Regions from separate parts of the Homo sapiens genome. Here region 2 is linked to region 1. Evidence: fine-mapped expression QTL. Tissue or cell type: whole blood. Region 1 holds a variant in brackets; the other region holds the start of a gene. All regions are shown on one strand. Distances are between the middles of the regions.

What was found. PIP is the estimated chance that this variant, and not a neighbour inherited with it, causes the effect.
Region 2: it holds the start of PIP5K1B, and the variant in region 1 is fine-mapped to the expression of PIP5K1B in whole blood (TOPMed, PIP 0.97).

The regions. Positions count from the first base shown.
Region 1 is chr9:68,581,252-68,589,358 of GRCh38, forward strand. The region is part of intron 2 of TMEM252-DT (TMEM252 divergent transcript); the gene reads left to right. Among named protein-coding and RNA genes, the nearest start is that of LINC01506, 39 kb to the left of the region's middle. RefSeq lists an enhancer at 3,403-3,492. The variant G/A (reference allele first, on the strand shown) is at 3,346.
Region 2 is chr9:68,701,167-68,709,259 of GRCh38, forward strand. It overlaps PIP5K1B (phosphatidylinositol-4-phosphate 5-kinase type 1 beta), which reads left to right and starts at 4,074. Exons shown (of 16, transcript NM_003558.4): 1 at 4,074-4,596. RefSeq lists enhancers at 3,588-4,513, 5,202-5,291, 5,742-5,891 and a silencer at 3,932-4,451.

The DNA of each region.
Region 1 (8,107 bases):
ATTGAAACCTTCCCAGATCCCACTCCCCCTTGGTTCTCTGTGCCCACACCCCAGCTTCTGTGGGCTCTGAAGCTAACTACTTGCAGCTTTGCCCTCTTTCAGAGATTTGACTGTGGCTACTGAAGCTACTTTGTCCATTTAGAGAGTTGAAGTGCCTGGGAGTTTATGACCCACCCTAGGGTCCCTGGTCTCTGCCACCAATGATGGACGGATGTTGTGGGAGGGGACATTCAAAATGCCAGCTAAGGCCGGGTACAGTGGCTCATGCCTGTATTCCCAGCATTTTGGGAGGTCAAGGCAGGTAAATCACATGAGGTCAGGAGTTCGAGACCAGCCTGGCCAACACGGTGAAACCCCGTCTCTACAAAAATACAAAAATTAGTTGGACATGATGGCGGGTGCCTATAATCCCAGCTACCCAGGAGGCTGAGGTGGGACAATTGCTTGAACCCGGGAGGTGGAGGTTGCAGTGAGCCGAGATCAGGCCACTGCACTCCAGCCTGGACAACAGAGCGAGACTGCATGTCAAAAAACAAATAAACAACAACAACAAAAAAAACCAGCTATGCCTCAGTGTGCCCCATGGGATCAGGCTGAGACTGGGACTTTCTCCTGGCATTGCTCAATTGCTTGGCTTCTTCCTCTACTCCACCCTGCCTCCCCACTCCCTTAGCAGTTTCTCCAGGAAGCACTTCCTTAATAAATCATATGCACCCACATTTTTGGTTAAGTGTCTGCTCCTAAGAAAACCCCATCTAAGACAAGCACCTTCTATGCACCAGGCACTGTGATTGTGTTCCAGTAGAAGAGGCCACTATGAACAAATTAACCAATATGATTAATGTATTTTAAAATGCTACTGGGCATCACGTTTCTCTAATGAAACATATGGTGTGTCAGCCAGGAGATGGCATACTCACTTTGGGTAATTCGAGAATAGTTTTGTAAAAATATTGTTTATAAAGGTATGGGCAGGATATAGGGAAATCACAAAGAGGAGTGCAACGCCCCAGCACTAGCACCAGCAGGGTACCAGAAACCCCTCCAGAGAGAAGTCAGCCTGACTGAAGTTACAGCCTTTGATCAAGAGATGGAACCAGAACAAGGTGACCTGGCAGGGGGTCCAGGGAGAAGAAGGGCAGAGTATGGGTCTGCGCTGGTTAACAAGCTTTTCAGCACATATGGTGTGTAATTGCCAAAAGTTACCTGAATATAGAAAATAATTTTTATAGACCACCTACTGACAACTCATGGAACACTGGTGTTTTGTAGGATTCCATTTAACACTACAGGAGAGCCCTGTCTGAAGATGATTTCCTTAAGGAACAAAACATCTCAATCTGAGAACTTTTTCTGTTACAAATATCCCCCATCCCACTGTCTCTGCCCAAGTAACAGCCTATTTCCATGCAACAAAGCCAGCACCACATTAAAATAGGACCACTCTTGATCTCCCTTGTGTATGGACTCTCAAAAAGTCAAACTCACAGAAGCGTAGAGTAGAATGGTGGTTGCCAGAGGTCAAGAATAGTTGAGAGGGGTACAAAGTTTCAGTTAGACTGGAGGAATAGGTTATGGAGATCTATTATACAGCATGGTGACTATAATTAATAACAATGCATTGCATACTTGAAAATGGCTAAGAGAATAGATTTTAAATATTCTCACCACAAAAAAATAGCTATGTGGGGGTGATGAATATGTTAAACCACTTATTTAATTATACCACAATATATACATACATTAAGACATCATGTTGTATACTGTAAAGGTATGCAATTTTTATTTGCCAAAAGTAAATAAATAGCTTATTAGGAAAAAAAACATGACCATTCTATCTAACTCCCACTGCCCTGTCCTGGATCACCCGCCGCGATCTCCAGGTGCCGCATTACCACTTCTCACCTTGACATTTGCACCCTTGGTTACAGACATACACAACCTTGACTCTGGTTGAGATTCTCCTCCACTTATGCTGTCCTGGGCAATATCCGCTTAGCATTCTGTTTATCCACACCTGCAGAACTTTTTTTCTGAAACCTCAGTCCTATGTAGCACACGGCCCTCCCCACCACCAGGGGACAGCGCTTCCAGCCCAGGGAGCAGAAACCAGGCCAAGGAGGCAAAGATGAAATCAGGCAGGGGACGGTGGCTCACGCCTGTAATCCCAGCACTTTGGGAGGCCTAGGCGGGCGGATCACATGAGGCCAGGAGTTTGAGACCAACCTGGCCAACATAGGAAACCTTGTCTCTACTAAAAATACAAAAATTAGCTGGGCGTGGTGGTGCACGCCTGTAATCCCAGCTACCCCGGAGGCACAGGCAGGAGAATCGTTTGAGCCCAGGAGGCGGAGGTGGTAGTGAGCCAAGATCGCACCACCGCACTCCAGCCTGGGCAACAAGAGTGAGACTCCGTCTCAAAAAAAAAGAAAAGAAAGGAAAGAAAGGAAAGAAAGAAAGAAGGAAAGAAAGAAAGAAAGAAAGAAAGAAAGAAAGAAAGAAAGAAAGAAAGAAAGAAAGAAAGAAAGAAGGAAGGAAGAAGGAAGAAAGAAAGAAAGAAAGAAAGAAAGAAAGAAAGAAAGAAAGAAAGAAAGAAAGAAAGAAAGAAAGAAAGAAACCAGGGCTGCCTCCAAAGCTCCCCGCTCACAGGATCAGCTGCCCGTCCTAGAGAAATTTCTTTTTAACACTTTCATTCTTTTAACTCTTTCCCACTCACTGGATAAGGATTACATAGGCACTAAAAGGCATGCGTGTATTTAGAAAAGACATTTCGTATTTTGCAAAGGGGAGAGCATTTCCAGTATTGACGGGGGTCTGTTTATTCTGTTGATAAATTAGAATTATAGCAAGCTTTGTTACCTCACTTCTGATCCCACAGCAGGTTAGAAGGAAGGAAGAGGTCAGGAGTGGTGTTAGAGACTGGCAGCAAGACAATGAGGGAAAAGGTGAAAATGGAAACAGAAATGAAAACCCAGAAAGCATTGCAGGCTGCAGGGAGTTCGCATGCAGGCTTCATAGTGGAAAAAAAAGTAGAACTGTGATCAGATCTCAGCAGCTTCTGAGCATTTACAGCTGTTTTTCATGGGGCCGGAGCCAATTTTTTAAAAGGAAAAATCTGAATCTCTGAGAAAATGGTTAATGTCGGTCATTGTACTCCAAGCAGGCAGCAAAGAATGCAATGCATTTTTAAAAGACATACAGCCCTAAAAGAATGAATGAGAATTGACTCGATTCTGCTTTTAGGGAATCTTTGAGGGAGAGGAGGTAATTCGTCTTTAGCATCTTTCACGCAGGCCCCGCTGGTCTTTGCCGGTCTACAAAGACCTCCTCCTGCCCTCCACAAGA[G/A]GGCGCCAGAATTCCTAGGACAGGACCCGGTCTGTGGTCAAGAGACCCGATGAAACTCGACATGACCACTAGAGGGGGGCAGTGAGGTCCTTAAACTGCATTCTGAGATTCCAATTTGTATTTGTTTATGTCATTTTAAAGATGCTTTCATCTAAGAGACATGCTTTGTCCTGTGTGCATGATGCCAGTGAAAAATGTGCTCTTCAAACCATGGGAGCACACTTCAGTTCAGCATTTCCATCGCATCAGGGCTGGTCTGACGTAAGCAGGTGACTTTGGCGGGAGGTGGGGGGATTGGGGGGCAGGGAGGGGGTGCCAGGTACTCTTTACCCAGCAGAAAAGGCATTTTGTTCTGCTCAGTCTATCCACAACAGTTTGCAGGAAACATTAAACCTATTAAAGTGTGCCTTGTTTCAAGAATGCATGTAGGTCACGAACAACTGCTAAAGATCGATCCTTGCCACTTCTTTTTGAGGGAATTGGAGTTAATACAGAATATCCAAAGATAACAGGAGGAATCAAGTCGGGGTTGATGTGCCCCCACCCCCCACCCCCAAGCAAATGAATCATCTCTCTTCCGAAGGAACCGTTCCATCCAATAGCACCACCTAAAGACCCTTTTGGAAGACTGCGGTATGCTCCACTGGAGTGCTCTGAAAATAGCCCTGTAGTGATTAACGTAAGGACAAGAATGATTCTGCTGGGATTTGTTTTTCAAGCACCCTGTTTTTGTGGCCAAGAACACATTCCTTGAATGGATACACTTCAGGTTGTTATATAGACAGTAGTGGGGGATTGGAGAAGGTTTAAGATGTACTTCAACATGGAATAATAAGCGATCATTTTTCAGGGGTCCCCAACCCTCGGGCTGCAGACCGGTATGGGTCCGTGGCCTTTTAGGAACAGAGCTACACACAGGAGATGAGTGGTGGGCGAGCGAGCGAAGCTTCATCTGTATTTACAGCCGCTCCCCATTGCTGGCATTGCCACCTGAGCTCCACCTCCTGTTATATCAGTAGTGATGTTAGATTCTCATAGAAGTGCAAACCCCATTGTGAACTGCGCATGCAAGGGATCTCGGTTGCGTGCTCTTTATGAGAATCTAACTAATGCCTGATGATCTGTCACTGTCTCCCGTCACCCACCCCCCCACCCCCGCCCCACCGCCGATGACACGGTCTAGTTGCAGGAAAACAAGCTCAGGGCTCCCACGAATTCTAAATTATGGTGAGTCGTATAATTATTTCATTATATTTTACAATGTAATAATAAGAGAAACAAAGTGTGCAATAAATGTAATGCACTTGAATCATTCCAAAACCATCCCCCACATCATCCCTGGAGAAATTGTCTTCTATGAAACCAGTCCCTGGTGCCAAAAATGTTGGGGACCACTCCTTTAAATGATGCTGAGGAGTACATTGACATAGATGGACAGTCGCAATATGTTGCTAAGTTTAAAAAAATAGGTTCTAAAACAGCATGACCCCATTTGTGTAATATATGTGTGTATACATACATTTTTAAAAGTCTGACAGATATATCCTAAAATGATTATTCCTGGATGGTACAATTATAAGTAATATTAAATATTTCTCATTTTTCCCTCCATTTGGTTTATCTGTATTTTCACATTTTATCTACCCAACCATGTATTACATGTGTAATTTTTTTTTAAGTTTGCCAACACATGCACTTTATATCTTTTTTTGGTATTAAAAAAGACCCAGTCTTGGAACTTTTTTACACTATTATCATACACTAAAAGAATTTTTACCATTCCACGTTAATAAGATAAACACAAATTCCTTCAATATATTATTCTCCCATTTTATATATGTATATACAGACTTATTAAATAAGCATTTATTAGCACTTTAAAGAGTTATTTTTAAGGAAGAGATAGAGTGATTCATCTTTTTGATTGCTCGCTTTCATCTAAGCCAAAATGATACATCTATAGAAACATTATGGGTGAGAATCAGAGTACACTCCTTTTGTTACTACATATATATAGTGTATATATAGTAACAAAACATATACTATATGTATGTATGTATACTATACTATGTACTATACATATACTGTATATTTACATATGTTTCTTAACCTTACTTTTACTAATAAAATTTCTTAAAGGGAAACCTTTGAAAGAATCATACTTGACTTCAATCATAACCTAAAGATGTTCTTTCAGGAAATTCTGGGATGATGTATGGGTTGTCGTGAAAATGATTCTGAAGCCAATTTTAGCAGCACTGAATCTCTTGTTTTTCTGTAATCAGTAAGAGGAATGCAGCGATTCTTGAGCTTCTCAGCCTGTTCTTTGTCTCACCTGTGACACTAAAATAGTCCATTTTTCTAAGTGCTCCAGCCTTCCCAAACTCAATTATTAACAGATTAAATTTCTATGAATGTTTAAAAACAGTTGAGGTAGATAAGAGTTGTGATTCTCTGCCATTTTCCAAATAATAAATGTATATTCACTGCTGCGTTAGTAAGAAACTATTCTGTATTCATAGGCCCTTCAAACTTTTAAGGAAATTTAGATTTATCTAAAGCTTAGGGTGTATAGTCAGAAAACTTTTTTTTTAATACTTTAAGTTCTGGGATACATGTGCAGAACGTGCAGGTTTGTTACATAGGTATATACATGTCATGGTGGTTTTCTGGACACATCAACCTGTCATCTACATTAGGTATTTCTCCTAATGCTATCCCTCCCCTAGCCCCCCACCGCCTGACAGGCCCCAGTGTGTGATGTTCCCTTCCCTGTGGGAAGGATGTGGCCATGTGTTCTGATTGTTCAGCTCCCATTTATGAGTGAGAACATGCAGTGTTTGGTTTTCTGTTCCTATGTTAGTTTCCTGAGAATGATGGTTTCCAGCTTCATCCATGTCCCTGCAAAGGACATGAACTCATCCTTTTTTATGGCTGCATAGTATTCCATGGTATATATGTGCCACATTTTCTTTATCCAGTCTATCATGAATGGGCATTTGGGTCGGTTTCAAGTCTTTGTTATTGTGAATAGTGCTGCAATAAACATACGTGTGCATGTGTCTTTATAATAGAATGATTCATACTCCTTTGGGTATGTACCCAGTAATGGGATTGCTGGGTCAAATGGTATTTCCAGTTCTAGATCCTTGAAGAATAGCCTCACTGTCTTCCACAATGGTTGAACTAATTTACACTCCCACCAACAGTGTAAAAGCATTCCTATTTCTCCACATCCTCTCCAGCATCTGTTGTTTCCTGACTTTTTAGTGATCACCATTATAACTGGTGTGAGATGGTATCTCATTGTGGTTTTGACTTGCATTTCTCTAATGACCAGTGATGATGAGCTTTTTTTCATATATTTGTTGGCCATATAAATGTCTTCTTTTGAGAAGTGTCTGTTCATATCCTTTGCCCACTTTTTGATGGGGTTGTTTGTTTGTTTTCTTGTAAATTTGTTTAAATTCTTTGTAGATTCTGGATATTAGCCCTTTGTCAGATGGATAGATTACAAAAATTTTCTTCCATTCTGTAGGTTGCCTGTTCACTCTGATGATAGATTTTTTTTTTTTTCTGTGCAAAAGCTCTTTAGTTTAATTAGATCCCATTTGTCAATTTTGGCTTTTGTTGCTATTGCTTTTGGTGTTTTAGTCATGAAGTCTTTGCTTATGCCTATGTCCTGAATGGTATTGCCTAGGTTTTCTTCTAGGGTTTTCATGGTTTTAGGTCTTACATTTAAGTCTTTAATCCATCTTGAGTTAATTTTTGTATGAGGTGTAAGGAAGTGGTCCAGTTTCAGTTTTCTGCATATGGGTAGCCAGTTTTCCCAACACCATGTATTGAATATGGAATCCTTTCCCCATTGCTTATTTTTGTCAGGTCTGTCAAAGATCAGATAGTTGTAGATGTGTGGCATTATTTCTGAGGCCTCTGTTCTGTTCCATTTGTCTATATCTCTGTTTTAGTACCAGTACCATGCTGTTTTGGTTACTGTAGCCTTGTAGTATAGTTTGAAGTCAGGCAGCATGATACCTCCAGCTTTGTTCTTTTTGCTTAGAATTGTCTTGGCTATACGGGCTCTTTTTTGGTTCCATTTGAAATTTAAAGTAGTTTTTTCAAATTCTGTGAAGAAAGTCAATGGTAGCTTGATGGGGTTAGCATTGAATCTATAAATTACTTTGGGCAGTATGGCCATTTTCACTATATTGACGCTTCTTATCCATGAGCATGGAATGTTTTTCCATCTGTTTGTGTCCTCTCTTGTTTGCCTGAGCAGTGGTTTGTAGTTCTCCTTGAAGAGGTCCTTCACATCCCTAGTAAGTTGTATTCCTAGGTATTTTATTCTCTTTGTAGCAATTGTGAATGGGAGTTCACTCGTGATTTGGCTCTCTGTCTATTATTGGTGTATAGGAATGCTTGTAATTTTTGCACATAGATTTTGTATCCTGAGACTTTGCTGAAGTTGCTTATCAGCTTAAGGAGATTTTGGGCTGAGACAATGAGTTTTTCTAAATATACAGTCATGTCATCTGCAAACAGAGACAACTTGACTTCCTCTCTTTCTATCTGAATACCTTTATCTCTTTCTCTTGCCTGATTGCCTTGGCCAGAACTTTCAATACTATGTTGAATAGGAGTGAGAAAGGACAACCTTTTCTTGTGCCAGTTTTCAAAGGGAATGCTTCCAGCTTTTGCCCATTCAGTATGATATTGGCTGTGGGTTTGTCATAAATAGCTCTTATTATTTTGAGATACATTC
Region 2 (8,093 bases), 120 kb after region 1:
ATTAGTGTCTCAAGTTATACAGGGGCATCAGCTAAGCGTTTAGCCTTTCTTGTCTGCTTAGACATGAAGTTTCTAGAAAGAGAGGGCAATGTGGCAGGAGGATGGTCCCTAGAGATTTGGGAAGGATGCTGGCTCTACTTCTCTACTCTTCAATGTCAACGAATGCAATGCATGCCTTTCATCTGGATTCCTGTTTTTTTCTCATTGGAAAAAAAATAAAGGACAGATGAACAGGTGGAACTATCCATAGCTCACCAATGTTCCTCAAGTTCCCTCTGAATATTTATTGGACTTCAGTTGCTCTTGAGACATCACCAAAAAAAAAAAAAAATGCTAAATGTGCATTAGCAACTTAGAGAAATGCAACCTCCGGCATTTCATAGAAAGGTCCAGAAAGAATGTGTAACTGGTTCAAAGTGGCGTAGCTAAGAAGAATATATCGATGATCTGATGTGGTGTCACAAAGCACCCAAACACGTAGTGGATGAAGTAGTCTTCAAAAAATGGCTGCTATCAGCTCTTTTATTCCTGAACATAACACAGTACCCCTCAAGTCAGAAGGCAGAGTCTATTTCCCCTCCTCTTGAATCTGACTGGCCTTGTGACTTGCTTTGACCAATAGACTGAAGCAGAAATAACATTCTAGAACTTCCAAACTCAACCCTTAAGAGAATTGGCAGTTTCTATTCCTCCCTCTTGGAAGCAAGATGCCATAGAAGAAGTCTAACCACCTTGCTGGGAGGAAGCCCAAGCCAGCTGGATGGACAGAGAGAGGTCATGTGGAGGAGAACTGAGGTGCCTGATATGTGAATGAGGCCTTCTTGAACCTTCCAATTCAGTCCGGCTGCCAGTGGCCAGTTGAATGCCGTCAAATGAGTGACCTAGGCCAGGCACAGTGGCTCATACCTGTAATACCAGCACTTTAGGGGTTGAGGTTGGAAGGTTGCTTGAGCTAGGAGTTTGAGACCATCCTGGGCAACACAGTGAGACCTTATCTCCACACAAAAAAATAAAAACAATTAGCTAGGCGTTGGGGTGCATGCCTGTGGTCCCAGCTACTTGGGAGGCGGAGGTGGGAGGATTGCTTGAGTCCAGGAGATCAAGGCTGCAGTAAACTGTAATCATGCCATTGCACTCCAGCCTGTTCCAGCCTGTGTGACACAGCAAGACCCTGTCTCAAAAGCAAGCAAACAAACAACAACAACAACAAAAACAAACAAAAAAACCATGAGTGACCTTAGGCAATACTCAGCTAGGCTTAGTTGACCCACTGAATCATGAAAAATAGTAAATGACTGATGATTTTGGCAACTAAGTTTTGGGATTGTTTGTTAAGCAGCAATCAATATCTGAAACAGTGGCTTTAAACAGCAACCATTTATTGTTTCTCATGAATCTATGAGTTGGGAGGGTGGTTCTGGTGATCTGGACCAAGCCTAGCCAATCTCATTCAGACTTGCTTGTGCCTCCACAGTCAAGTGAGGGCTGACTGGTCAAGGATGCCTCAGCTGTTATGACTCAGCTCTGCTCTACAGGGTCTTTCATCTTCCAGCAGGCTTATTCTGGTGATGTCAGAATTCCAAGACTGGAAACAGAAATGTGTAAACATTTTTCCAGCGTTCATTTACATCAAGCCGGCTACTGTCTTGTTGGTCAAAGTAAATCATACGGTTGGGCCCAGAATAGGAGTGGACTACAAGGTTAGAGGGAAAGACCTTGGAGAAAAAAGGAGGTCATTTATTGGGGGGCCACTAATACTATCAAATGTACTACTAGGAACCCATGCATGTTTCTCATAGTTAGAGGAGTATTCAATAGCATTATTAAAGTTTTGGACTGAGGTCAGGAATCAATTGAAAAAATTACATTTAAAATTAAGCAAAATAATTAGATGAATATTTTCTGATTTTTAAATAGGTTTCCAGAATTTCTGGCCAAGTCACTATTGCTCATGATATTGATGTTGTTGTATTATTTCCAATACAGGATGACTTTCCTAAATCCCTGTTGATAGAGTTGGAGATAGAATCAGGAAGAAATACCAGGTCTCATACTACATGGTCATTCATTCCATTAATCAATTCACAGTAATAATGCAATCGTAAGGCTCTTGGTAGAGTTCCTTAGAATCCTGCTTCATAAAGTTAGCTCTCTAAATAGCCAGTGGGCAGTCTGGTTGGACACTTCTCTCTGAAAACCTAAGGCTGTTTGCTTTTGGGCTTTACAGAAGTGGCTCAATACCAGGCTCATTAATGGGAAAAGGGTCATGTGTATGGATACATGTATTTGGACATTTATACGTAATGCGTGATCACTTTTGATCCAATGTTTGGCTTTACCTGTCTTCATCTCCCCTGCATTACCAGAAACTGACTTTGCACTTTCACTTACCACCGCCTCCCTGGGAGGCAAATTCATTTTCCACTCTGGATTTCATAGCTGAAGTCTGAGAAGCAGGAAAAGGAGAGACTGGGATTACCATTCCCAGATTCCAAACTAGCCTGCTAGTTACAGCGGTATGATGCTGCCCCCTATACAGTGATTCGTACCAGTCAGATGAACGGTTCTTTGATCGGTTCTTCTGTCCTCCACCACTGGTCTATCCACCCCATCTTGAACTTTGTTAATACAATATTTCTGCTAGTTATTGTTCAGGGATTGAGAGTCAGGGAAACTGTGTTCTGGTCCTTGGGTTACTTAATGTCTTGAGACCTTAGTTTCCTCATCTGTAAAGCGGGAGGGCTGGACTAGATGTATGTTCCTCCTGCTCTGAGCTGTGAAGCGTCTAGGATGCCAGGAGAAAACCAGACCCAAGTCACAGGGTTCTAAACAAACCATACCTTAAATCTCTCAGTAATGGCCAGCCACATCTGCAAGAAGCAGGCTGGGAAAACAGCTGAAGAATAACAGATATTTGTTTTATTTGTCAATTATGGCTCAGTAAAGCTAAAAAAAAATAGATACTTCTGTTATCAAGAAATTATTGCACTTGATTCAAGGCTGATATTAAACCATAGCAGACTCACTCAAGGTGGGGGGTGAGAGAAACAAAGAGATTACAAAACTGAAAAGAGGTGTTCATTTGCAGAGAACTAAGGGAGTATCCTTCAAACAGAAACTGGAAGCCAGAGATCTCTGAAGATAAGGATCATGAAATGTTGTTATTCCCCAGACAGAATGTATCCCACGTTTTCCACCGGCGTTGTTTTTGGTAAAGAAGGGTAAGTGGAAGGAAGTGATGAGGCTGAAAAATACCATTTGCTTCAATTCAGCCGCGAAGGATCCGCTACCTTTTGGTTCCTATTAAGTGAATTTAGCTTTAGCTTTCATGATAGCATTTTCCCAAAGGAGTCCTTTAGATCTGACCCCTACCCTCTTCGCAGCTAGACTGACATCAGGTGACGTTGCAAGTGCCCCCAGCCCACTAAGCGCTATCAGTAGGAATTGGCCCTCAGCCCCGTCACAGCGCTTTCCCATGACATCCCCCAGCTTCTCTCTCCTAGGACCTCCTCGCCAGCCTACCCCTACCTGTTGGGTAGGTCTTACTTGCTGGGAACACCTGCTGTCCTTAGAATGGGAGCAACCAACGCCTTGGAATCCTGGCCTGTCCCTTCCTCGTGAAGGGGGCGCCTGCGCTCAAGTGCCGGCTTCGCCGCCTCAGGCAGAGTCTAGCAGGCGGGCGACCAGGCGTAGCTGAGTTCTGTGGCCTGGGGAAAGGGGACGCCCTATCCCCACAGCCCTGTTTCGCAGGGCTTCAAGACGCTGAGAACGGCCGGGAACCCCTGGAGTCTTGGAGGCACCCGCCAATTCCAGGGGCCCACCCCAACCCCGCTCTCAGTCTGGGCCAGCGGCGGCGGGACAGGCGCCCGGTCCCCACACACCGGCTGAGACGCCCAGCCCACTGCGGCTGAAGCTCCGGCCGCTGTTGCGGCAGGTGCTGCAAACCGGTCTGCCTTCGCTGCAGGGCTTGCGGGGATGGGGCAAGTGGGTGGAGAGAAAAGGGGAAGAGCCTGGGCGGCCGGCAGGCGGGGCCTGCAGCCTCCCCAGCCGCGGCAGCCGCCGCGCAGCCGGCTCTCTCTGCGCCTCGCTCCGACTCCGGCGCGCACCAAGCGGGAACCCGCGCCCGAGCCCGGCGGGCGCCGCTGCTGCTCCTCTCGGTCCCCGGTTCCCGGTCCCCGAACGCGCCGCGGCGAGGCTGCGCCCGGCAGTGGAGCCGCTCGGAGCTGCTGGGCTTTGGCGGCCGCTCGCTGCTCCGTCTGGCCGGAGGACCGGCGGGGAAGGAAGGGGAAAGCGGGGACACACACACTCGCCGCGGCGCGCGCGCACTGCACACTCGTAGCCGCGCGCCCCCGCCAAGGCGCGTCCGGAGCGAGTTTGGCCCCGCGGCTCCAGCCCCGGCACCTGCCCGCCCTCAGCGTTGCCCCCGGCCCCGGCCCCGCCCGCCGCCCCCTCCGCCCTCCCGCCCCTCCCGCCCCTCCCGCCCCTCGCCTGCACTGCTCTCCCTTCGCTGTGGGGAAGCGACAACGTCCCGATAACTTGCAGACTGTGGCGCAACTGGTCTTGGTAGCGGAGGCACCCGAATGCTGCCCGGGTGAGGTAAGTTTCCTGTGCGTCCCCGGCCCCTTCCCACTAGACCCTTCTGAGGGGCTTGCGCTTAGGGGCTCTGCATCTCTGCTGAAACCCGTCGGTCTCTCTACCCTTCCACTTTGCCTGTCTGCGTTGTGCTGGGGGTGACGTGGAGAGGGCGCCCGTGGCCACCGAAGCGGACCTTCGTTCCGCGGGGGCCACAGCTGCGCGCTCCCAACGGACACCCACCCGCTCGTCACCCGGATCCCCGGGGCCGCAGTGACACTCGGAGATCACTCTGGGTTCACTTAAATAGGAGTACTCTCCCCTTTTCCGGGGAACCTGCAGAGTTTGGCAGCGGAAGGAAAGGTCTCCCACCACCCTCCCCCGGTACGAAACAGCGGTGAACTTGTTAGGCGCCCTGGTATCTCAAGAGGGGCTTGCGAGTTGGTGTTCTGCTCATTTCTGGCGCTGGTGCCGGATTGAACAGGTGCGGTATGGTTCCAGTCTAAATGCAGCAACAGACTTCTGCGTTTCCCAGGCTTTCTCCCCCAGCCTGGTCAACGTGACGCTTCAACATCTGGGGCAGGGGCTGGGAGTGTAGGGGCACTGGGGAGGGAGAATGCCCGGGTTTGATTTACTATGCCGGTGCCAGGAGTCGCCAGAACAGAAGAAAACAAATGTCTGCTTATCTGGCATCTATGCAGATGAGCGTGTTGTCATTTCTTATCCCCCCCAACCCCCAGCTCTCTTGTCTGGTGCCCAGCGTGGCTGAGTAGAAACCTATTCCGGAGAAGTTATTTGGGTAGATTGATTAATTCTTTCATCGAATCTACTGAAATCAGGGCTCCGAACAAGGCAATCCTAGTTACTCTGATGCTTTTTTAAAGGGAGCGTGTTACAGATCAGAAATAACACCCACTATCATCACTACCTCTCTGTGACATTCTCAGATGCAGGAGGCCCTAGCTTTAAGGGGAATGATCCTTAAGGGACCGGTAGGACCTCAGAATGTGTTAATCTCGTGCAAGGAAGAAGCGGTCTCTGTGTCAGTACTTCTGAGTCTCGGTTTGGGGAACCCCTTTTGTCCCTCTAATGAAGCACATTCAGCCAGAGACTTCTCCCCTGTTCTGCGAAGAGACTGAAGCGTTCTGCAGCTGTTGGAGTGGAGAAAGGCGAAAGGATTGGTTTCATTAGGACTCTAATGTGATGAAGTAAGGATGGGTTTCATTAGGACTCTAATGTGATGAAGTAGGGTAGTGTTCATGGAAGCTTTGCTAGAGCATTCCCAGCTGAAAGGAGACGCTGGGAAAAAACCTTAATCGGCCAAGTGTAAACCAGTGGGAGGTTGAGTGAGTTTCATGTGTGATCTCTGAGCGGAGGGAAACGGTGGTTCTGATATGGTCCTGTGGGCAGAGACTTATGAGGACTGATGAGAAAGCTGGTGAGTTTGAGACTGATGTATGATGACATCTTACCTGAGAAGGAAAACTGTGAAGCACTAAATGATAGAACCACATTACATTTTTGTCCACGTTAAGACTAGAGAGATTTAATAATAACACCTTACATTTGCATCAGTGTCTTGCAATTTGTAAATTCTTTTGAGTGTTCTCACCTAATTCCAAACATTTCTGAGGGAGGCAGGGCAAAGACTTTTTACCATGTAAACACAGAAGGAACATGAGGCTCACAGATTCAGAGATTTATCAAGGTAACAAGTGCTGGTATTAGAATCACAGTTAGGTTTTCTGTCATAACCAGGTGCCTGCTCTGTACTTATATAAGGTGGTTTTTTAAATGGCAGAGTTCTTCTGCATTTATTGTGGTCTGCATAGTCTCACTGTAAATTACTGTTTACATTTTACAGATGAGGAAACTGAGGTTTAGACAAGCAGTGGGAGTTTTCCATGGATTTACATCTCATTTAGTGGCATTTGCAAGACTAGAACTTGGATCTTCTGATGTCCAGTCCATTGCTTTGTGTATTCTGCCATCATTTCAGTTCTGATAGCAATGAGGACACATCATGGAAACTGCAATACACAAAGGACTGTTAAGCATGCCCCCAGTGACCTGGGTTCTAGTTCTGGGACTACATTTGGCCGTATGACCTGGGCCATCATATCACTTCCAAGTCTCAAGTGTCTCACATATAAAACAAAACGTTTGTATGAAATTATGTTTTTTCTTTCCAACTTTAGCATTTTGTGATGTTTACCAATGTGTTTGTAATCCAATGTTATCATTTTCTCTAGAGGAAGGAGACCTTTGTACCCCACATCACCTAAGAGACCTAGCTAATTACTCTTTCACCTTTAGTTTATCCCTTCCCCCCTTTACTACATGCCACTTCATCAAAGGAATGAAACTTAACAAGTGCGTTTTAGCTTAACATCTACAGTATATTGTTTAGTTTACTGTTTGACTTGAAAATATTCTGAGGGGTTAAAGTACTGTAAGGTACATGTCAGGGCTTACTTGAATATTCTAATTGTAAGCTCATAACTTTTTTTTTTTAGCTTTATGGTTTGCATAAAGTAAGTGCTCAGTAAATAGCTGTTGAATTAATGAAGGGGGTGAATGAAGTCATTCATAAGGAAAACATATGCTGTAAAACATAGAAAGCATCTTACCATGTAAATTCCCAACACATAAGATAATTTGCCTACAGGCATGTGCCTCCTGAAGCTGGCGGGTACAGAGCCCATTGTTGCTCTCTTTTCTGAAGGCATCATATAGGGAAGAGCTTTTCTTTCTCCCTAGACAGTAGACTCATGTCATCTATGTTATGCTCTTTTGTTTGCCGCCCCCCCGCCCCTTTAGTTGTTAGTATTACAGCTGCTGAAAGATACATTCCTAGAAATTGACTTGTCCCATTTTATGAAAGGGTATGTCTTGACATGGGGAAACCAACCATTCTGTTTTTAAAACAGGGTATTGAATAAATTTCAGGAGATGCTAATACTGTCTCGTGGTTTCAGAGGGGGAACCTAGTTAACAAAACCAACCTAGTTTCTGTTCCTTTTAACAATCTTCTCTTTCTACTCCTCCTCTTTATATACAGACAAGTAGTGTTTTTATGTTTGGAAGAATGATAAGAAAGAATATAGTGATCTTAAATATTATTAATGGATCTGCAATTTACATTGGGGATTGATGTATGTTTCCTTCTGATAAAGAATTTAAATATTAATTAGTTTAGAAGTACCGTTTATGGGTAAGAAAACTAAAACTTAGGTGAATTGACTTACTTATGGTCACAAAGATGATAGCAGGAGGACCAAGATCAATGTGGAATTCTTAAGAAGGTTCATATTTGAGTTTGTCCCAGGAGTTCTATGGTGAAGGTACAGTTTTGACTTTTAGAAATCATAGAGATTAACAGAAAACTTCTGTTTACTATCATTATTAGAGAGTTAGTACATTTGAAAATGGTTTAGCATTTATATGTTTAAGTTTTCTTGCCCAAGCAGATGCCATTAAAAATAACATGTTTTTTTCTCTTTACTTTTTTTTTGTTTTTT